2 separate regions of the Homo sapiens genome follow, and region 1 is linked to region 2. A link means that fine-mapping ties the variant in region 2 to the expression of a gene that starts in the linked region. Tissue or cell type: whole blood. Region 2 holds a variant in brackets; the other region holds the start of a gene. All regions are shown on one strand. Distances are from middle to middle.

Region 1 (11,139 bases), 25 kb after region 2:
ATAGGCTACATGTTAAATGGATTGTTTAGTCAGCTATTTCATTACCTTTGAAAGGGAAATGAGTAATAACTTATTAATTTTAAATGAATAGATATTATTGCTACTGGTAACATTTATACAGCACTTGGCCAGTTGTTCGAAATAGTCTCCTAATAATTTATAAGGTTTTTTAAATCAAAGAAATGTTGAATCATACACTCTTGGGGCTAAAAGGAACAAGAGGTCATTTAATCTGTCTCCCTACTTTCAAAGAGAATGACTAATTCTGTGCCAGCCAGATAGGAATCTTCTAACTCCTCCTCCTCCTCGTTATCTCATCCAAAAAGACTTTTAAAGTGTCAATCTGTAAATGGAACTGTATTTGGCACTCTATAGGTCTTTAAAGATTTAATACAACAATGCAGAGACAAATCACATAAACAAAGTCCAAAGAACTGTGTACATAAACAGTTTAAGAAAAATGCTGGCCAGGCTCTGGTGGCTCGCACCTGTAATCCCAGCACTGTGGGAGGCCAAGGCAGGTGGATTACGAGGTGAGGAGTTCAAGACCAGCCTGGCCAAGATGGTGAAACCTCATCTCTACTAAAAATACAAAAATTAGCCAGGTGTGGTGGTACACGCCTGTAATCTCAGCTACTCAGGAGGCTGAGGCAGAAGAATCGCTAGAACCTGGGAGGCGGAGGCTGCAGTGAGCCGAGATCATGCCACTGCACTACAGCCTGGGCAACAGAGTGAGATTCTGTCTCCAAAAAAAAAAAAAAGAAAGAAAAGAAAAAGGAAAATGCTATACGTAAAATTACAACAAAATTTTTTTCTCTCAATTTATCTACATAAACATTTTCAGCCCACGTAGATAAATATAGATAGATAAACATAACTATATAAACATGCATATATGCAAGAAAATAAAAGATTTGGGGAAACATGATAGCTTTCAAATATGTGAAAGATTTCATGTAGAATAAAGATTATATTTGTTCTGTGTAGCTACATGGTAGAATTAGAACTGGGGTGAAACAGGTGGAAGTTTCAGGGGAACATTTTTCAGTTTATCTTTAGGAAGAACTTTTTTTTTGAGACTGAGTCTGGCTCTGTCACCCAGGCTGGAGTGCAATGGTGTGATCTCAGCTCACTGTAAGCTCCGCCTCCTGGGTTCATGCCATTCTCCTGAATCAGCCTCCTGAGTAGCTGGGATTACAGGCGCCTGCCACCACGCCCGGCTAATTTTTTGTATTTTTGGTAGAGATGGGGTTTCACCATGTTAGCCAGGATGGTCTCGATCTCCTGACCTTGTGATCCGCCCACTTTGGCCTCCCAAAGTGCTGGGATTACAGGCGTGAGCCACTGCGCCTGGCCCAGGAAGTATGTTTTAATAATTAGAACCTTTTGAAAGAAATGGATACCCTCACTGGAATTACTGCAGAGAGGATTCCAGATTAGCCTACATGACCTCTAAGTTTCTTTCCAACTCTATGACACTTGAGTCATGTGTCAAAACAAAACAGCCGGGTGCGGTGGCTCACGCCTGTAATCCCAGCACTTTGGGAGGCCAAGGCAGATGGATCACAAGGTCAGGAGATCGAGACTATCCTGGCTAACACGGTGAAATCCCATCTCTTCTAAAAAACAAAAAATTAGCCGGGTGTAGTGGTGGTCGCCTGTAGTCCCAGCTACTCGGGAGGCTGAGGCAGGAGAATGGTGTGAACCCGGGAGGCGGAGCTTGCAGTGAGCCGAGATCGCGCCACTGCACTCCAGCCTGGGGGACAGAGCGAGACTCCATATCAAAAACAAAAAACAAAAAACAAAAAACCATATTTGAGGGATGTAGAGGAAGGTAAGCGAATTTTATAACGAAAGAATTATTACCAGTTGTGGTTAAGGCCTGTACTGAATAGAGTCCGAGGAAACTGTTAGGTCTGTATTAATAAGTCTGAGGTTCTCTTATCAAGGAGGCAGGATCTGAATAGAATACTGAAGAGGACAGTAGAATCCTGTAAGGGAGTCACTCGAGACTTATATTAGGGAGAATATAATTATTGCAAAACTCATAGCTAAAAGGGATACATCTCAGAAATAGGCTAATTGGATAAAGTATGTATGCCTGCCATAGGAAAGGTGGAGGTTGGAGGAACAGGAGATGGAAGAACATTAGGCAATTATAATCCAGTTATCCTGGAAAATAACTTCGAAACACTAGGTGAAACGTTTATTTTGTTTATTTATTTATTTATTTATTTATTTTTGAGACAGAGACTCCCTCTGTCACCTAGGCTGGGGTGCAGTGGCGCAATCTCCTGTCACTGCAACTTCCGCCTCCTGGGCTCAAGCAATTCGCCTGCCTCAGGTTCCCCAGTAGCTGGGATTACAGGCACGCGCCCCCACGATTGGCTAGTTTTTGCATTTTTAGTAGAGACGGGGTTTCACCATATTGGCCTGACTGGTCTTAAACTCCTGACCTCAAGTGATCCGCCCACCTTGGCCTCCCAAAGTGCTGGGATTACAAACATGAGCCACTGTGCCCGGCCCATTAGGTGAAAATTTTAGACTTAAGACTTTGTACGTAATGAATGAGAGGGAGAGTGTGGTCAAAGCAATGAGAGAAGCAGTTTCTTTGAGTGAGTTGCTTGGTGCTAAAGGTGAGGAATCTCTAGGAAGAAAGGGCTAGTAGCGGGAGAAACCAGCGCAGAGATGCCTAAGCTAACACTGTGTCTTACATAACGCTGTTTATATAGATGAAGGGAAGAGGTAGATATGAGAGATACTGTAAAACTGTAAAAAGTATGGCAATAGCCTAGAAATGCAGACTGGTGAAGTCAGGGATTGGTGAGGCATTACTCACAAGCTCCTTCCTTCTGGAGAGAGTGGTGTTGCTCCTGTGATAAGGATGATGAGGATGAAGAGTATCTGTGTCTTCAGCACGCCTTACTGCTGTTGGTGATGTGTCTGATCTTTTATGCTGGCCTCTGGCCATTGCTCAAATTTATATATATATATATATATAAAATTTGAAAAAGTTAGGCTTGTAAAACCTAAAACCATTATGTTTTTTGTATTAATAGTATATGCATATATGACACCAGTTATATGCCAAATACTGTTTTAAGTACTATACATATATATTGACTAATTTAATTTTCACAATATTCCTATAAGGTAGATACTATTTGTTATCATCATCAGTTTACAGATAATGTACTGAGACACAAAAAGGTTATGTACTTTGCCCAGATCAAATAGTCCATAAGTATCAGGGCCAAGTTATGAACCCAAGCAGTCTGGCTTCAGAGCCCCTGCCCTTAGCCACTGCACTCTACTGCAGGCTGAGCAGCCCTTATCAGAAATGTTCGGACCACAAGTGTTTCAGATTTGGGAATATTTACACACACATAATGAGATATCTTGGGCATGCGACCCAAGTCTAAACACAAAATTCATTTATGTTTCATATACACCTTTATACACATAGCTTGAATGCAATTTAATACAATATTTTAAAAATTTTGTGCATGAAACAAAGTTTATGTTAAGTACTTACGTGAAATGTTCCACCTCTGGCATCATATTGGTGCTCAAAAAATTTCGAATTTTGCAGCATTTTGGATTTTCAGATTTGAGATGTTCAACCCATATATTCATCTATCTTTATATAGTATGCATGAATTAGCAGAGAAACCAAACCATTATCCCCAAATTAAAATTTTCTCCCATAATAAAAATCAAACAGTAAACCAAATTCCGGCTCTGTGACATCTTTATCCCTTTCGAATGAATTTTTTTCAGTAGTTGCAAACACTGGGAATTAGAAGAAAAGACAGGTATTTTAAACACAGGGAAACTTTAATCCAAATGGAAAGTTCATATTTTATCCAGTGTTTACACATAGTGTTTCCGTTCCCATTTTGGAGTTAATTTCAGTTATTTCTGGCTACACCCTAGATGGCAATGGAATAATTTCATAGTGCTTTTACAACAGGCAATATCTACGTCAGTGGATGGTTCATCTAAGGTCAACCTGGTTCAGGAAAGATATGCAAAGGAGAGCTTCATCCACCTCTTCTCCCAACCCTACATTTCCAGTGGTTGTTTTGTTCCTTCTTTGCAGTGGCTCCCGTCCTGTCTAATTTAAGCAAAATTTCAGTGTAGTACCTCCATTAACTGATACTTTTTATAAAGCAAATTGGGAAGCCAAAAGAATAACAGGAGAATGATCAAGATTTGAGAATTAAAAAAAATTGAATTAAGATGCAAGTAAACACAGTGGGAGAGGGGGATGGCGAGTCAATTGTATATAGTATATGTGTATGTATAAAACGCTTCTTTTCTGCCTCATTCACTCTCTTTAGACTGCATAAGCTAAAATGAGTAAGTTCTGACTCAGAAACAGGGTCAAAGATATATATTTTTTCTCCTTTGTCATCAAAAGAAGACCTGACCACGTGCACAGTGTATAAAGGATGCCAGTGGGAAGATTAACTTTACTGTCAGGCATTGTAAGGAAACAGAAACTCACATATGGTGAGATGGTAAAGGAGTTCAAGAGGAATTCATGGTAATATAATATGAGGAATGGGGCTACAATTGCGTCCCCAATGAGACTATAGAAGGCACACAATCCAGGCCAGTGCGATTTAACATCATGAAATAATCTCCAAAAATTAAAATCAAATAAGGTAGCATTTTACTCTCTTCTTGTAAATTTTATACCATTTTAATTTTTACTGGAGGCCTGCTGCTGACAAGGGTGTTTAAAAGAGATCCCCCTGGGTATTTTAGAGCTCCTTAACTGGATGGCAAGGACCAAATAAATGCCTTGTGCTTTTCTGCCCCACCTGTGCCTGCACCTGAGCTGCGCACGCGGTGGCACTGAGCCCTCGACTCACTCATTTGACAGGTGGAGGTGGGATGGGGAAGGCCGGAGACCGACCAACCCCAAAGGCGGTAGCGTGTGGAGCCGAACGCGGGAGGGGGTCGGCTGAGGCGGATTGAGGGGGGGGACGCCGAGGTGCGGCGACAGGACGCGGAGGACGAAAGACCTCAAGCAGCGGTGGCCGGCAAATGAGGTGGGCACTGGGGGACCCACCCTGCGAGGAGGCGGGGGCGGGGACGGGGGGCGCGGCGCGGCAGGGCGGGGCGGCAGCCGGGAAGCCCTCCTTCCCCGCGGCGGAGGTGACTGGCGGGCGGGGGGCGGGGGGCGGGGGGCGGGAGACGCTCTGTCCCACGCTTTCCCAGCGCTCGGTGGTTTAAAGATGGCGGCGGCGGTGGCGGCGGCGGCGGCGGCGGCGTTGGGGGCGCGGAGCCGCGACAGGAGGAGGGAAAAGCAGAATCTGTGAGTCGCCTGGAGGCAGCGCGGCGGCTGCCGTGAGGAGGCCGGGTGCGGAGCCGCCGGTGGCCCAGCCACTCAGGGCCAGGGCCTGGGCTGGGAGGGAGAGACCGGAGCAGCGCCAGGAGCCCGAGGCCGGAGCCGAGGAGGAATGTGACCAGGGGTCGGCGGGGGCGCGGGAGTACGCGAGAGCAGGGATGGGGCAGCAGGTGGGCCGCGTCGGGGAAGCTCCGGGGCTCCAGCAGCCTCAGCCCCGCGGGATCCGGGGCAGCAGTGCAGCCAGGCCCTCCGGCCGCAGGCGGGACCCGGCGGGGCGCACCACAGAGACCGGCTTCAATATCTTCACCCAGCATGGTGAGTGTGTCTGGGAGCCGGCATGAGAGCGTGGGGGAGGCCGGGGGTGGGGTCGGGGCGGGGTGGGTGGCGGACGGGCTGCCCGAGGGGTCGGAGGGTGGAAGGTGCCTGAGAGTGGGGGCGGAATCCGCTGCCATCTGGTCCAGTCCTGGGAGGCGAGTCACACCCCTCCCCCCTCGCGTCTCTAGCCTGGCTGGCAGATCCCGGGGGCGGAGAAGGAAAGAGAAGTGGGTTTGGGGACCCTGGATGGTCTGTCCTCTACTCTGGGACGGGACTATGCGGCTGCAGAAAGAAAGTGAATGGCAGCTTCAGGAGAGGGAAGGATGAAGGGCAGTATTAGCTCAGTCCCAGAGGTGGGAGCATAAACCCGTCGTTAGTGAAGGGGAAATGGGTTGTATCCTAAGGGATTGGGAAATGGGAACTGAATTTCAGGAGATTGTGGAGTACAAGGTATGTGTTTACGTTAGGTGATGAGCAGTGTCAGGATAGTGAACTGTGGACAGTGTCAAATGCTTTTCTGTAGGGAAGATGAAGTTAGCATCATCTTATCACTTTTGACATGCTTTTGTGGTTTATTTTGTTTTGTATTTCGTTTTTACTAGAAATGAAAGGCTTTGCCAAAGCCTCTGTACTATGCTTCAGAGTAGGACACACAATTCTGAGATTGCTGGCAAGGGCTAGAGGTTGGTGGGCATGGTTAGGACGTCAGTCAGGATATGAACAAGTTTTCCTTTGTAGTGTGTGCGTGTGCCCATATACATACATACATGTATGTATGCTCCCTGTAGTCTGAAACCTATTATTTTGATCTCATTGTCAATGTATTTTTAGAATAGTTGTCTCCAAACTTTTTTTGTCTTGTTTTTTTGTTTTGTTTTTGTTTTTGTTTTTTTTGAGACAGAGTCTCGCTTTGGTCCCCATGATGGAGTGCAATGGCGGGATGTCGGCTCACTGCAATCTCTGCCTCCCGGGTTCAAGTGATTCTCCTGCCTCAGCCTCCCGAGTAGCTGGAACTGCAGGTGTGCACCACCACGCCCGGCTAATTTTTGTATTTTTGGTGGTGGTGGGATTTTGTCATATACTCCTGACATCAGGTAATCTGCCTGCCTTGGCCTCTCAAAGTGCTGGGATTACGGGTGTGAGCCACCACCGTTCCTGGCCCAAACTCTTTTTTTTTTTTTTTTTTTTTTGGAGACGGAGTCTCATTCTGTCGCCCAGGCTGGAGTGCAGTGGCGTGATCTTGGCTCACTGCAACCTCTGCCTCCCAGGTTCAAGCGATTCTCCTGCCTCAGCCTCGGAGTAGCTGGGATTACAGGCGCCCGCCACCACACCCGGCTAATTTTTTGTGTTTTTAGTAGGGTGGGGTTTCTCTATGTTGGCCAGGCTGGTCTCGAACGCCTGACCTCATGATCCACCCGCCACAGCCTCCCAAAGTGCTGGGATTACAGGCGTGAGGCACTGCGCCTGGCCACATGTCTCCTATTGAAGATGTGCTTGAGTGTCTCTTTCGGGTATATGAACACTTTATGAAGGTGATATATGAGCTAATCTTTATTAAAATCACTTCCTAAAACACAGGATGGAAGAATGGATTAGTAGTTTACAGGGAAGAAATCATCCAAGTAAGCTTCACTTTGTGGGAAGTGTTACTATGCATTAAACTTGGCCTAGTAGGCAATGGTGATCCTCTTGCTTTACTATCTTATTCGGTATGTAAGATTTTCCAAGAAAGAGGAAGTCATGAAGAATGGAATAGGAAGACATTTTGAGGATTTGGATCTATGGAGAGGGAGAACAATTTGGGTAGAAGAAACAACTTGAACGGGAACATGGGAATAGATATAATTTGTTGATGGGCTAGTGAGGAGACAGCTGTCAGGAATGAAGCATCATTATGAGTTGGAAGAAAAAGATCATAGAGCAAAAATTGGAAGAGTCAAGTTCTGGTTCTGGCTCCACCTGCCTGGGTGATTTTAGTCACCATCTTTGGGTTTCTTTATCTGTAAAGTGAGGAGGTTGGACTGGATGATCTCTAAGATACTTTCTGGTTTTAAGATTTTATGATTCTAATTAAGAAGCAGTAGAAAGAAAATTTTGATAGGCTGGATGGGACTGGGTTATGGAAAATCTGGCAGAGAAGTTTATATCCATTTACCTGATTGGCTAGTCTTTACCTGAAAGACTGGCCTTGAGTGGTGGCAGTGGAAATGGGAGGAGTAATTTCAAGGGTCCTTTCATTCATTCAACAAACAAGGGTTTTTTTTGAGCACCTGTTATGTACTGGATTGTGGGAATGTTGCTGTGAACATAACAGAGTCCCTGCCCTTTGGAACTTAAAGGACTTTATGATTTGATAGAGGATGAAAGAAGAGAGATCACTTTGGAGTATTTGTTAAGGGCATGAACTCTGGACCCATTTTTCCTGGATTTGAAACCTTGCTTGGCTGCTTATGAGCTTTGTGACCTGGGACAAGTTATTTAACTTTTTGTGTCTTGGACTCTTCATTTGTAAAGTGGTGATAATAATAGTACCTAGTATTAAATGAATAGTGGCTGGGCACATAGTATGAGCTAAATGTGTGTAGCTGCTGCCATTACTAATACTACTGTTATTATTAAAAACAGGAGTAATTCGGCCAGGTGCGGTGGCTCACGCCTGTAATCCCAGCACTGTGGGAGGCCGAGGTGGGCAGATCATGAGGTCAGGAGTTCGAGACCAGCCTGAGCAACATGGTGAAACCTCGTCTGTACTAAAAATAGAAAAATTAGCTGGGCATGGTGGCACGCGCCTGTAGTCCTAGCTACTCAGGAGGCTGAGACAGGAGAATCGCTTGAACCCGGGAGGTGGAGGTTGCAGTGAGCCAAGATCGCGCCACTCCAGCCTGGGTGACAGAGCGAGACTCTGTCTCAAAAAAAAAAAAAAAAAAAAAGTAGGGATAATTCAAAGATGACACCAGGATTTAGAACCTGGCTAACTGGGATGATGAAGATTCTATTGACAAGTTTGGAAGTTAGAAGCTGATTGAAAAAATGGGAATAGGTCGAGTTTATTGCCAAAGACTAGTATGAAAAGAAAGGAATTAGCAAATAATATAGGAAACAAAGGTGCAGTGAGTACTGTTTTTTAGACAGATGGGTTTAAAAAGTTTTTTTCTGTACATCATAGTTTCTTTTTTTTTTTTTTTTTTTTTTTTTTTGAGGCGGAGTCTCACTCTGTCGCCCAGGCTGGAGTGCAGTGGCGCGATCTCGGCTCACTGCAAGCTCCGCCTCCCGGGTTCACGCCATTCTCCTGCCTCAGCCTCCCGAGCAGCTGGGACTACAGGCACCTGCCACCACGCCCGGCTAATTTTTTTTTGTATTTTTAGTAGAGACAGGGTTTCACCGTGTTAGCCAAGATGGTCTTGATCTCCTGACCTCATGATCCGCCCTCTTCGGCCTCCCAAAGTGCTGGGATTACAGGCATGAGCCACCGCTTCCGGCCACGTCATAGTTTCTTAACCTCGGCGGCATTGATATTTTGGGCTGGCTAATTCTGTGTTTTGGGGGGCTGTCCTGTGCATTGTAGGATGTTTAGCAGCATCCCTGGACTCTACCCACTAGATGCCAGTAGCACCTTCTTTTTGCCCCTTACTTGTTATAAAAATGCCTCCAGACATTGTTAAATCTCTTGGGGGGCAGAATTGCCCCTAGTTGAGGACACCACTTAGAAATGTGATAGATTCTGAATTGAATGAATGAATGAATGAATTAGATTCGAAAGCTTCTCAGTGGATGTATCATTTGACCTTTACATGGTAAATGTAGGTGCTCGAATCTAGTGTACAAATTACTGTCTTGAGTTTGCCATATTGAGGTATTAGCACATAATTTCATATATGAATGTTAGGTCTGTTAGACTCTTGGGTTTACATGTAGGTTTTAATATAAGCCAAATAATACATTTAGTTAATCAGTAAAAAGGTACATACATTATGGAAATGGTTTATCAGAGTCCAGGACTTTTCTTTCTTTAGCTAAAATGGTCATTTTTTATCGTTAATAATATGTGGGTAAGCTGTGATAATAATTTGCCTTGCCAAAAGTGATTTTTGTGAATGTAATTTAGAAGGAACAAAAATAATAGAGCCATTTTTGGTATGAAAGGAGTGAGTGCTGTGTGACTTTTCTGAGATCTGCTATTTTTTTTGTCAACTCTTTTATTTTATGTTTTATTTTAGAGAAAGGTCTTGCTCTGCCACCCAGGCTGGAGTGCAGTGCTGCGATCGTAGATCGCTGCAGCCTTAAACTCCTGGACTCAAGCAATCCTCCTGCCTCAGCCTCCCGAGGAGCTGAGACTACAGGCACACGCCATCACACCTGGGTAATTTTGTGTTTTTTTTTTTTTTTTTGTAGAGACGGAGGTCTCACTATGTTGCTCAGGCTGGTCTCAAACTCCTAGGCTCAGGTGATACTCTGCCTCGGCCTCCCAAAGTGCTGGGATTATAGGCGTGAGCCACTGCGAGAGGCAAGCTCTGCTATTAAACCTTTCTGGTGAGCTGATGTTTCATGACTAATAATCTAGGGTTGAATACTTACTTGCTGTTGAATATCTCACATACCTTTTAACAGCTGAATGATTTTACTTTAGCTTCCCTCTCTCATTTTCTAAAAATTCTATTAAAAATTAACTTTAGGCTGGGCGTGGTGGCTCACACCTATAATCCCAGCACTTTGGGAGGCCGACGTGGGCAGATCACCTGAGGTCAGGAGTTCGAGATCAGCCTGGCCAACATGGTGAAACCCTGTCTCTACTAAAAAAATACAAAAATTAGCCAGGTGTGGTGGCGGGCACCTATAGTCCCAGCTACTCAGGAGGCTGAGACAGGAGAATCCCCTGAACCCCGGAGGCGGAGTTTGCAGTGAGCCGAGATCGCGCACCTGCACTCCAGCCTGGGCGACAGAGCAAGACTCCGTCTCCAAAAAAACCAACAAACAAAAACCCTTACATTATGAAGTTTGGAATAACAAAAATTTTTCCTTAAATCAAACTCATTATTTTAAGTGATCTGATTTATTTATTTATTTTTTATTTTGGATCTGTAGTTTTTTTTTTTTTTTTTTTTTTTTGTAGTGAGTAGGGTCTCACTCTCTTGCCCAGGCTGGAGTGCATTGGCGAGATCATGGCTCACTGCAGCCTTGACCTCCCAGACTCAAGTGATCCTCTCACCTCTCAGCCTCCTGAATACCTGGGACTATAGGTGCACGCCACCATGCCTTTCTATTTTTTTTTTTTTTTTGTAGAGACAGAGTTTTGCCATGTTGCCCATGGTGGTTTTGAACTCCTGGGCTCAAGTGATCTGCCTGCCTTGCCCTCCCAAAGTCCTGAGATTACAGGTGTGAGCCACCGCACCCGGCCAGTAGTTCATGTTTTAATCTTTGTGGAATGAAGGCTGTTGGCACCCCAGGTTGAAAACGATGCTATGGAA
Region 2 (11,139 bases):
TACCTAATACAAACTTGCATTTGACAGATGAAACAAATTTTTATGTTCTTGTATACTTGATGTCCTGCCATTAATGAAATAAGTAGGATAAAAAAAACAAAATATACAGAAACCATAAGAAAGAAAAAGAAGTACGAGCCCAGGCAAATAGCCCAGTTTTGCATTTCATGTTTATTATATCCCTATAATTGTTATCATCCTATAAATTTTCAGATAATTTTGTAACCATTTAATGCAAAGACTTCTTTTTTTTTTTTTTTTGAGACTAAGTCTCACTCTGTCACCCAGCCCCAAGACTGTTTTCTTTTTTTCTGAAATTTAGCTTCAGCTGAGCTGAAACTTAAAGCTAAATTTGCTACCCAGAACTCAATAGTGACTCACTATAGTTAAGGAGAGTATAAATAAAGAAAATAATCATAGGCACCTGCAGGTGCTAAGACAATTAAGAGAAACTATAAATATTATTCACATTGAAATTCATCAGCAACTCAATACAGATGCATGTATTGTTTCTTAAGAAATCACAAAGTAGGCCGGGCATGATGGCCCACACCTGTAATCCCAGCACTCTGGGAGGCGGAGGCAGGTAGATCACCTGAGGTCAGGAGTTCGAGACCAGCCTGGCCAACAGTGAAACCCCATCTCTACTAAAAATACAAAAATTAGCCAGGCACGGTGGTGCATGCCTGTAATCCCAGCTACTCGGGAGGCCGAGAGGGGAGAATCGCTTAAAGCCGGGAGGCGGAGGTTGCAGTGAGCCAAGGTCGCCCCACTGCACCTCAGCCTGGGCAACAAGAGTGAAACTCTGTCGGAAAGAAAGAAGGAAGGAAGGAAGGAAGGAAGAAAGGAAGGAAGGGTGGGCATGAAGTATATAGAATGAGCCAATGTTCAATAAACAGTAGAAAAGAACAGATCTAAGGGAAATTTGCTGTGTTTAAAATTTATACTTTCTTTTTTGCCTCATAAAGGATGAAAATCACTTCTTTTTTCTCTTTTATATATCCTCCCTTTAATTAGTGTTCAGATAGTGTGTATAGTGCTGAGAGTCCTACACTTCAGACACAGAATTCAAATGGAGAAGAAAAATGCAAAGTTCTTGCCAATTTCTAGATGAAGTTTCAGCAGTTTTACTTTTTAGGTACAGTGAAAATGGTTGAAGTTGGCTCAGGGATATATGTTATGCTGATTAAAGACTTACTAGATTTATGATAAAGAATTTCCTTGAATAATTTAAAAGAAAAAGATGCTAATTTCTAGAGATTATTTTATATTTAGTTGATCAAAGCTCTATGTAGCAAAATAATTCGCACTCTCCAACTGTGGCAGATTGTTATCATAATAACTCCTAAAGTATTATGAGTCTCATGAGTCCTCATTTTCATGGTCCATGACATTGCCTCTCCTTCCATCAAAAGGTAGACTCTATTACCCTATGGCCTAGAATCTGGACAGGCCTTGTGATTTGCTTTGACCAATAGGATGTGGCAGAATGATGTTGTGTGAGCACTGGAGCCTGAGCCTGAAGATTCTTGGCAGCTTCTGCCTTTGCTGTTTTGGAACAAAGGTGCCATGTAAAGAAGTTTAAACTGGCTGCTGCTTGCTGAATGATGAGAACCCACATGGAGAGAAAAATCTCAGCCTTGCAATTATCCCCATCAAAGTCAAGGAACAATGAGCCATGATCATGATCTTTAGATTGCATTTTTTTGCTAAATGTGAAATAAATATATTATATAATACACGTGTAAATAGAATAGGTTTTCCCCCGAGATCTTAGAAGAGAATGCCTATAGTATGTTAATAAGCCTTGGTATCATACTATAAAAAGAGCAGGAGGTAAAGGCTAACCATGTTGCATCATTATTTAAAATCCTGACCCGGCACACAACGGCTCACATCGGTAATCCCACAGCACTTAGGAGGACTGAGGTGGGAAGAATACTTTGAGCCCAGGAGTTCAAGATCAAGCTGGGCAACAAAGTGAGACCCCTGTCTCTACAAAAACAAAAGCAAAAATTAGCCAGGCATGGTTGCGTGCAACTATAGTTCCAACTACTCAGGATGCTAAGGTGGGAGGATCCTGATACACAATGAAGTTTGAGAACCACTGAGCTAAGAAAACAGCTATTGTTAGCTAATGAAATACTCAAGTGGGCAGCCCCAAAAGTTGATCAGTCCACTCTTGCTATTATTTATTTATTTATTTATTTATTTTTGAGACAGAGTTTTGCTCTTCTTGCCCAAGCTGGAGTGCAATGGCGCGATCTTGGCTGACTGCAGCCTCCACCTCCTGGGTCAAATGATTCTCCTGCCTCAACCTCCTGAGTAGCTGGGATGACAGGAGCGTGCCACCATGCCCGGCTAATTTTTTTGTATTTTTAGTAGAAACGGGGTTTCACCATGTTAGCCAGGCTGGTCTTAAACTCCTGACCTCAGGTGATCCGCCCACCTCGGCCTCCCAAAGTGCTGGGATTACTATTCTGGCTGGATATCGAGATAGTGGGCAGTTTCCTTGCCCCCTAGGGAAGGCTTGCCTAGCATGAGGCTACCCTGTGCAACCTCACAACAATTATAGAAACTCTATCCTATAAGACTGTGATGCTCTTACTTGCCTCAAAGTCTTCCCAGACTCATTAGCCAATACTGTGCTTGACAATCACTTGGCTTTTGATTACCTCTTGGCAGAACAAGGTGGGATATGTGTAGTCACTAACTCTTCCTGTTGTGCTTTGGTAAATAATTCAACATTAATAGAAAAAGACATTAAATTTATCTATGACCAGGTCAAGTGGTTGCACCAATTTACGAAAAGGGCACAAATGCTCAGGGAATATGGGAGATCATAAAATAGGCCATCCCTAATCTCACCTGGTTTTTACCCTTCCTGGGCTCTTTAGCTGCCATCCTACTTCTCTTGATTCTGGGCCCTGTCTCTCAAACTGTCTGGTCTCTTTTGTGTCTAAGTAAATTGAAGACGGCAGGGCGTGGTGGCTCACGCCTGTAATCCCACCACTTTGGGAGGCTGAGGCAGGTGAATCACTTGAGGTCAGGAGTTTGAGACCGGCCTGGGCAACATGGTGAAACCCTGTCTCTACTAAAAATACAAAAATTAGCTGGGCGTGGTGGCACACACCTGTAATCCCAGCTGCTGGGGAGGCTGAGGCAGGAGAATCACTTGAACCCAGGAGGCGGTGGTTGCAGTGAGCTGAGATCGCTCCACTGCACTCCAGTCTGGGCAACAGAGTGAGACTCTGTCTCAAAAAAAAAAAAATAAATAAATAAAATAAATAAATAAATAAAGTGAATTGAAGCCATACAGGGATATAAACAGCTAGATTTGCACCCAGGAGATAACCAGACCTATCTAAGACTAGTTAGGAAAAAATTTCACTAATCTAATAGGCCCCATGTAAACACCCAAACTCAGCTTGAAGAAGCTGTAGAAGACAGACCTTCATTCCACAGCACTCCTCAAGAATGAGGACTGAGGCCAGACACAATGGCTCACACCTGTAATCCCAGCATTTTGGGAGGCTGAGGCAGGCAGATCACTTGAGCTCGGGGTTCGAGACCAGCCTGGGGAACATGATGAGACCCCCCCCCCACCACCACCATCTCTACAAAAAAAATACAAAAATTAGCTGGGTGTAGTGACATGTACCTGTGGTCCCAGCTATCCTGCAGGATGAGGTGGGAGAATCGCTTGAGCCCAGGAGGTTGAGGCTGCAGTGAGCTATGATCATGCCATTGCACTCCAGCCTGGGTGACAGAGCAAGACCCTGTTTCAAAGAAAAAAAAAAGAGAAAGAATGAGGAGTGAATGTACAGAAAAAGGGAGATTTGTGTTTTTTGTTTTTTTGTTGTTGTTTTTGGGAGAAGAGGCCAATGCAAGTCTTTATTGGAAAGAAAAGACTTTATAGCACATTTGAGTAACTTAACACAGAGGCTCCATGGGCCCCCTGATGGGGCAGGTTCCACAGTTAGGATATCACTGGCTCTTGCCTTTGTGTAGCCAAAACTAGATGATGGCACTGTTGTCCTCTTCATAGATATAGCCCACTATTCACTTATTGGTGATGGTGGGGACCAAATTAGGGTTCCCTGTGACTGAAGCTGCCTTTGGGGGTATTATACTGTATGGGTCCAGTCCCTTCCGTGCAGCCATCATGAGCTCCCTCTCCAACCCAGCCGCCTTCTTGTCATCAGTAAGAACACCACCTCCAGATGCCATGGAGTACACCATGGCCACTCCATTGGAATTGCGGGCCCTCAGGGCCTGTGTGGCCAGCGCTCTGGTCTGCAAAGCATCTTGAAGCCATCACACCTGTGACAAGCAGTAGCACTGGGAGATTTGTCACCTGGTATAACATGTAGGTGACATAGGTGAATTCCTACTGTATCCAAACTCTTGTTTATCTTTAAGAAACAGGATGCCTGCAATTAAAAGTTCCCTTTGTAACCAGACTAACTGAGACTGGTTAGAACCAAGATAGCCAACCAAATGACTTCAAGAAGACCTCAGGCTTCATTATAATCTCACTTCCATGCTAAATGACACTCCCACTAGTGCCATGACAGTTGACAATTGCCAAGACAGTGACCAGAAGAAGCCATAAAAGCACAAAAAAGAAGGCAGCACTATGGTTCTGGGAAGCCCACCACCCATTTCCAGAAAAAATGTGAGTATTTCTCCCCTTGCTTTTAAAGTCCAACCCCATTATTAGAGAAGCCCTAAATTTTAGTCCCCTCACCTTTCACTTATTGAGACATTGATTAGTGAGCCAGGCTCCCACTTCTGGATTCCATGGCCATTGAATAAAGCCTGCACTGGTTGACACTCACTTTTAGTTTTGTATATTGACTTCATGACACCAAATAGTAAAGTACCACATCTTTATAGGGACCAGCTTTGTTGTTCATAAAACTGGCAACCCAGATGGGACACTGGACTAGATTAGGGAAGGCCTATTTGGGAAGGCCCTTTGCCTCACCGCAGACCTGGCAACAGGCACCTGACAGCTGGAACCAGCTTTGTCAGTAACATTGTGAAGATTAAATGTAGACATAAACTCTTAGGACAGTACATGGCACAGGATAGGAATAGTCTGATTTTTTAATTAATTTATTTATTTTTTGAGATGGAGTCTCACTCTGTCACCAAGGCTGGAGTGCAATAGTGTGATCTCGGCTGGGGCAGGCTCAAGTAGGCTGCCTCAGCCTCCCGAGTAGCTGAGATTACAGATGTGCACTGCCACGCCTGGCTAATTTTTGTATTTTTAGTAGAGATGGGGTTTCACCATGTTGGCCAGGCTGGTCTCAAACTCCTGACCTCAGGCAATCCGCCCACCTCGGCCTCCCAAAGTGCTGGGATTATAGGTGTGAGCCACCATGCCCAGCTGAATAGTCTGAATTTTAGCCATTATTAGAGATCTGGGGAACTCTTTTTTCCTTTATGTGTAGAGGAGTTGGCCTACTGAGGAACTCTACCACCAATCAGTCTGTGCTATGACTGAGTTTCTGGAGTCAGTCTACCTCTAAATGTGTTCATGGACATAGAGTAGCAAGCATGGCTTCATGTATCCCTATACAAAGTGTTTTCATTTCATTTCCTATTGCTGCTGCAATGAATTCTGGAGGCTCTAGGGGAGAGCCTGTTTTCTTGCCTTTTCCATCTTCTGTAGG[C/T]GGCCTGCATTCCTTGGCTTGTAACCCTGCTTTATTCCAGGCCTCTGTTTCCATCGTCATACCTCCTCTTCTTATTCTCAATATCCTGTCCCTCCCCTTATAAGATTCATGTGATTGCCGGGCACGGTGAATCATGCCTGTAATCCTAGCACTTTGGGAGGCCAAGGCGGGCAGACTGAGCTCAGGAGTTCGAGACCAGCCTGGGCAACATGGTGAAACCCCATCTCTACTAAAATACAAAAAAAATTAGCCAGGAGTGGTGGCGTGCGCCTGTAGTCCCAGCTACTCGGGAGGGTGAGACAGGAGAAGTGCTTGAACCTGGGAGGCAGAGGTTGCAGTGAGCTGAGATTGCACCACCGCCCTCCAGTCTGGGTGACAGAATGAGACACTGTTTCAAAAAAAAAAAAAGATTCATGTGATTACTTTGGGCCCATTGGCTAATGCAGGATTATCGCCCCATCTCAAGATCCTTAATTTAGTCACATCTACAAAATCCATTTGACCATGTAAGATAACATATTCTCAGGTTCTAGAGATTAGAAGGTGGGCATCTTTGATGAGGAAGTGTCAGTTTATGCTTACCACACTGGACAAGGAGTTTATCTCGGTTGTGGTGGACACATTTCTCTGAATCATACAGAGGTCATGTTAGCCACTTTCTCACGGATGGCTCTTTTCCCGAAGAATAACAGTGGGAAAGAAAAATGCCAGCCTTTGAAAAGACAGAGAGACAGAGGAGTATACCATTTTTCTTATGTGAGTGAAGAAATGGTGATAGGAATGGTTACTTTCTGAAAATATGCAAGGACTATCTAAAACCCTGGAATGTTAAGGGCTTGATGACATAGAAGTCATAGTAGCAACTCCAGCCTCAGCTGGAAGTAGGCTGAAGTAGGCTGCATGGCCTCTTTACACTTTCGCATATGCTTCCAGATCCCACATGTCAGTGACAAATGATCGTGTTATATAGCAAAACACGTAAGAACACAAGCTCTGGAGTCAGCCAAGACCCACATCCTTGCTCCGCTAGCTCTGCTATTTACTAATTGGGTGACCTTGGATGACCTGCTTAACTTCTCTAGACTAAGTTTTCTTGACTGTAAAATGGGGATAATGAGAGGTCACAGGTTTGTTATTAGGATTACATGAGATAATGTATGCAAAGTGCTTAGCATAGTGTCTGACACAGTAATTACTATTCAGTAAATTATTATTATTATTATAACTGGAATAAATATGAGGAAAGATAAAGTAGAACTGCACCATCTAACACAACAACATATTCTATAATCCCCTATAAATCTCCCCCCAAAGTCCCACTCATCATAGAAACTACTCTCCTAAATTGCTCTTCTTTGTCTCTTTGGAAACTCCTATCCTTTCTGGGTCTCTTCTTCTCACTTTTGGAATAATTTCTGTCAGACATCTTCTGTATGGCTTCTCATTTAGGCTCATTCCATTCTGTTTCTCTGCCCATTTAACTAATGAGTATAACAAAGGCACAATATTGAGTCATATAGATATCCCTTTAAAAGAGCTGAAAGTGGCAGAAACAAGTCTGTGAATACTTACCCTGGTCTCTTTTTGTCCTATCAACTTCTGTTTTTTTGTTTTGTTTTGTTTTGTTTTTGAGACACAGTTTCACTCTGTCGCCCAGGCTAGAGTGCAGTGGCACGATCTATCTCGGCTCACTGCAACCTCTGCTTCCTGGGCTCCAGTGATTTTCCTGCCTCAGCCTCCGAGTAGCTGGGATTACAGGCTCCCGCCACTGTGCCCGGCTAATTTTTGTATTTTTAGTACAGATGGGGTTTCACCATGTTGGCCAGGCTGGTCTCGAACTCCTGACCTCAGGTGATCTGCCCGCCTTGGCCTCCCAAAGTGTTGGGATTACAGGTGTGAGCCACCATGGCTGGCCATTTCTTTCTGTGTTGTTGTTGTTGCTGTTTTGTTTTGTTTTGTTTTTTCCGAGATGGAGGCTCACTTTGTCACCCAGGCTGGAGTGCAGTTTGTGCAATCTCGGCTTACTGCAACCTCTGCCTCCTGGGTTCAAGTGATTCTAGTGCCTCAGCCTCCCAAGTAGCTGGGGTTACAGGCATGCGCCACCACGCCCAGTTAATTTTTATATTTTTAGTAGAGACATGGTTTCACCACATTGGCCAGGCTGATCTCGAGCTCCAGTTCTCAAGTGATCTGCCCACCTCGGCCTCCCAAAATGCTGGGATTACAGGACAGTCAACCTCATTTTTTATCCTCATGCTCTTCCAGCTTACAACCTTGTTCAGGTGTGCCAAATGTTTGGAGAACCATATAAATTGAGCTTATTTATATTCAGTTTGGAATTCTGAAGCATTTATTAAACTCTTTCATCTATGTTGACTGGGGAACAATGCATCTGCTCAATAGTGACTGCTCTGGAAAAGTCCTTGTTAAGCTACTAGCTGCAGGTTTCTTCTATCCAAGGAGGACATCTAGAGGCTAACTGTGATGTGTAGCCTTTCCAGGAATGCTTTCCAAATTGTTTTCTTCACAGATCCAATCATAAATCATAAATCACATACCCAGTAAGTCTAACTAGAATAAATATTAAAGTATAGCTTATCTTAAGGGAAGAAACAGACCTAATGACGTTACATTTATTTTCCAGGCACAGTAGAAGTACATTAAGGGTACAGAAGAACTTTTAAATGTGATGAGTTGGGAGAAGAGCCATAAAGACAATTTGGGGGCTGGGCGCACTGGCTTATGCCTGTAATCCCAATACTTTGGGAGGCGGAGGCAGGTGGATCACTTGAGATCAGGAGTTCGAGACCAGCCCAGCCAACATGGTGAAACCCCCCTCTCTACTAAAAATACAATAATTAGCTGGGCATGGTGGTAGGCGCCTGTAATCCTGGCTATGTGGGAGGCTGAAGCAGATGAATGGCTTGAATCCAGGAGGTGGACGTTGCAGTGAGCTGAGATGGAGCCACTGCACTTCAGCCTGGTCAACAAGAGCAAAACTCCATCTCAAAAAAAAAAAAAAAAGGATTTGGGACAGGTGAAGAAATTTGAGCATGTTGGTTGATGTGACTGAGTTAATATTGATTTTCTTAAGTGTGTTAGGACCCTGTGCTTCTGCAGGACAGTATTCCTGTTCTTGGGAGATTCAAGCTGGGATATTTAAGAATAATGTAGGAAGACATCTGCAACCTACTTTCAAATGTTTTAACAAAAAGGAGATGTGTGTATACATATGTAGAGAGACAAAGCAGGTGTGGCAAGAGGTCATCAGTTGGTAAATCTAAGTGGGGAGAAATGTGAGTATTCATTACACTTTTCTACAACTTTACGTTTTTTCCAAATGAAAAAAGTTAGAACAGGCTGGGAATGATGGCTCATGCCTATAATCCCAGCACTTTGGGAGGCCGAGGCCCGTGGGTCACCTGAGGTCAGGAATTCAAGACCAGCCTGGCCAACATGGTGAAACCCTGTCTCTACTAAAAATACAAAAATTAGCCGAGCATGGTGGTGGGCACCTGTAATCCCAGCTATGTGGGAGGCTGAGGCAGGAGAATGGCTTGAACCCCAGAGGCGGAGGTTGCAGTGAGCCGATATCATGCCACTGCACTCCAGCTTGGGCGAGTGAGTGAGACTCCATCTAAAAAAAAAAATCAGAACATAAAAGCAATGAGCAAAGTCACTTAAAATATTACCTGAATTTGTATCTCCACCGTTGTGACATCTCTTATGCTGTGTTTTGTTCCTGTGTTGAAATTGGACTTTTTTTTTTTTTTTTTTTTGTGATGGAGTCTCACTGTGTCACCTAGGCTGGAGTGCGGTGGCACGATCTCAGCTCACTGCAACCTCCACCTCCCAGGTTCAAGCGATTCTCTTGCCTCAGCCTCCTGAGTAGCTGGGATTACAGATGCATGCCACCACACCCAATTGATTGATTGACTGATTAATTTTATTTATTTATTTATTTTTGAGATGGAGTTTTGCTCTTGTTGCCCAGGCTGGAGTGCAATGGCATGATCTCGGCTGACTGAAACCTCTGCCTCCTGGGTTCAAGTGATTCTCCTGCCTCAGCCTCCCGAGTAGCTGGGATTACAGGTGTGCACCACTATGCCCGGTTAATTTTGTATTTTTAGTAGGGACAGGGTTTCTCCATGTTGGTCAGGCTGGTCTGGAACTCCCAACCTCAGGTAATTCGCCCGCCTCAGCCTCCCAATATTTTTTTATTTTTAAAGATGGAGTCTAGGCCGGGCGCGGTGGCTCGCGCCTGTAATCCCAGCACTTTGGGAGGCTGAGGTGGGCGGATCACCTGAGGCCGGGAGTTCACGACCAGCCTGATCAACATGGAGAAACCCCATCTCTACTAAAAATACAAAATTAGCCAGGGGTGGTGGCACATGCCTGTAATCCCAGCTACTCGGGAGGCTGAGGCAGGAGAATTGCTTGAACCCAGGAGGCGGAAGTTGCGGTGAGCTGAGATCACGCCATTGCACTCCAGCCTGGGCAACAAGAGTGAAACTTTGTCTCAAAAAAAAAAAAAAAAAAAAAAGATGGAGTCTTGCTCTGTGGCCCAAGCTAGAGTGCAGTGGCGTGATCTCAGTTCACTGCAACCTCTGCCTACCTGGTTCAAGCAATCCTCCTGCCTCAGCCTCCCGAGTAGCTGGGATTATAGGCACCTGCCACCATGCCTGAATAATTTTTGTATTTTTAGTACAGGCAGGGTTTCACCACGTTGACCAGGCTGGTCTCAAACTCCTGATCTTGTGATCCGCCTGCCTCGGCCTCCCGAATTGCTGGGATTACAGGCATGAGCCACCGCGCCCAGCTGAAATTGGAGTTCTTATGTCTTCCAATCTCACTGTATTGTAATCACTCACATAGTTATTCTGTGCTCCTTGTATCACTCAGCATACAGCAAACACTCACAAATATTTGCTAATGCTAGAAAAAAAAAGTGATAGAAAACTTCACAGCTCCCCACTGTGCCATGCTCCCTCTGGTCTTCCTTAGGGCGGGGAGAATGCTTCCTTCCTCTGTTTCCCCTTCCTCCAGATTCCCACGTTGGGGGAAGCCTTCCTGGCCCTGCTTCTGTGCTCTTAGGTCATTTCCCCTTCTTTAGCACTCATTGCACAGTATATTCTAATTGTCAATTTTCTTTACTGGATTCTCCAACCACACTACAGTTTCCTTGAGGAGAAGGGAATTTTGTCTGCCTTTTTTACAGCTGTTACCTTAGTCCCTGATACAGCAGCTGGCACACAGTAAGAGCTTAATACTTAGTGAATGAATGGCCAATGCTAGGGTGACCAATGTTTTAAAGAGCCAAACTGGCTGGGCATGGTGGCTCATGCCTGTAATCCCAGCACTTTGGGAGGCTGAGGCAGGTGGATCACCTGAGGTTGGGAGTTCGAGACAAGCCTGACCAACATGGAGAAACCCCGTCTCTACTAAAAATACAAAATTA

What was found. PIP is the estimated chance that this variant, and not a neighbour inherited with it, causes the effect.
Region 1: it holds the start of ABL2, and the variant in region 2 is fine-mapped to the expression of ABL2 in whole blood (TOPMed, PIP 0.98).

What each region holds. Positions count from the first base shown.
Region 1 is chr1:179,223,776-179,234,914 of GRCh38, reverse strand. ABL2 (ABL proto-oncogene 2, non-receptor tyrosine kinase) reads left to right here and starts at 5,238. Exons shown (of 12, transcript NM_007314.4): 1 at 5,238-5,674. The coding sequence starts at 5,518. RefSeq lists a silencer at 5,323-5,732 and an enhancer at 5,188-5,944.
Region 2 is chr1:179,248,912-179,260,050 of GRCh38, reverse strand. It overlaps the pseudogene COX5BP8. Among named protein-coding and RNA genes, the nearest start is that of ABL2, 25 kb to the right of the region's middle. RefSeq lists a silencer at 9,383-9,555. The variant C/T (reference allele first, on the strand shown) is at 5,682.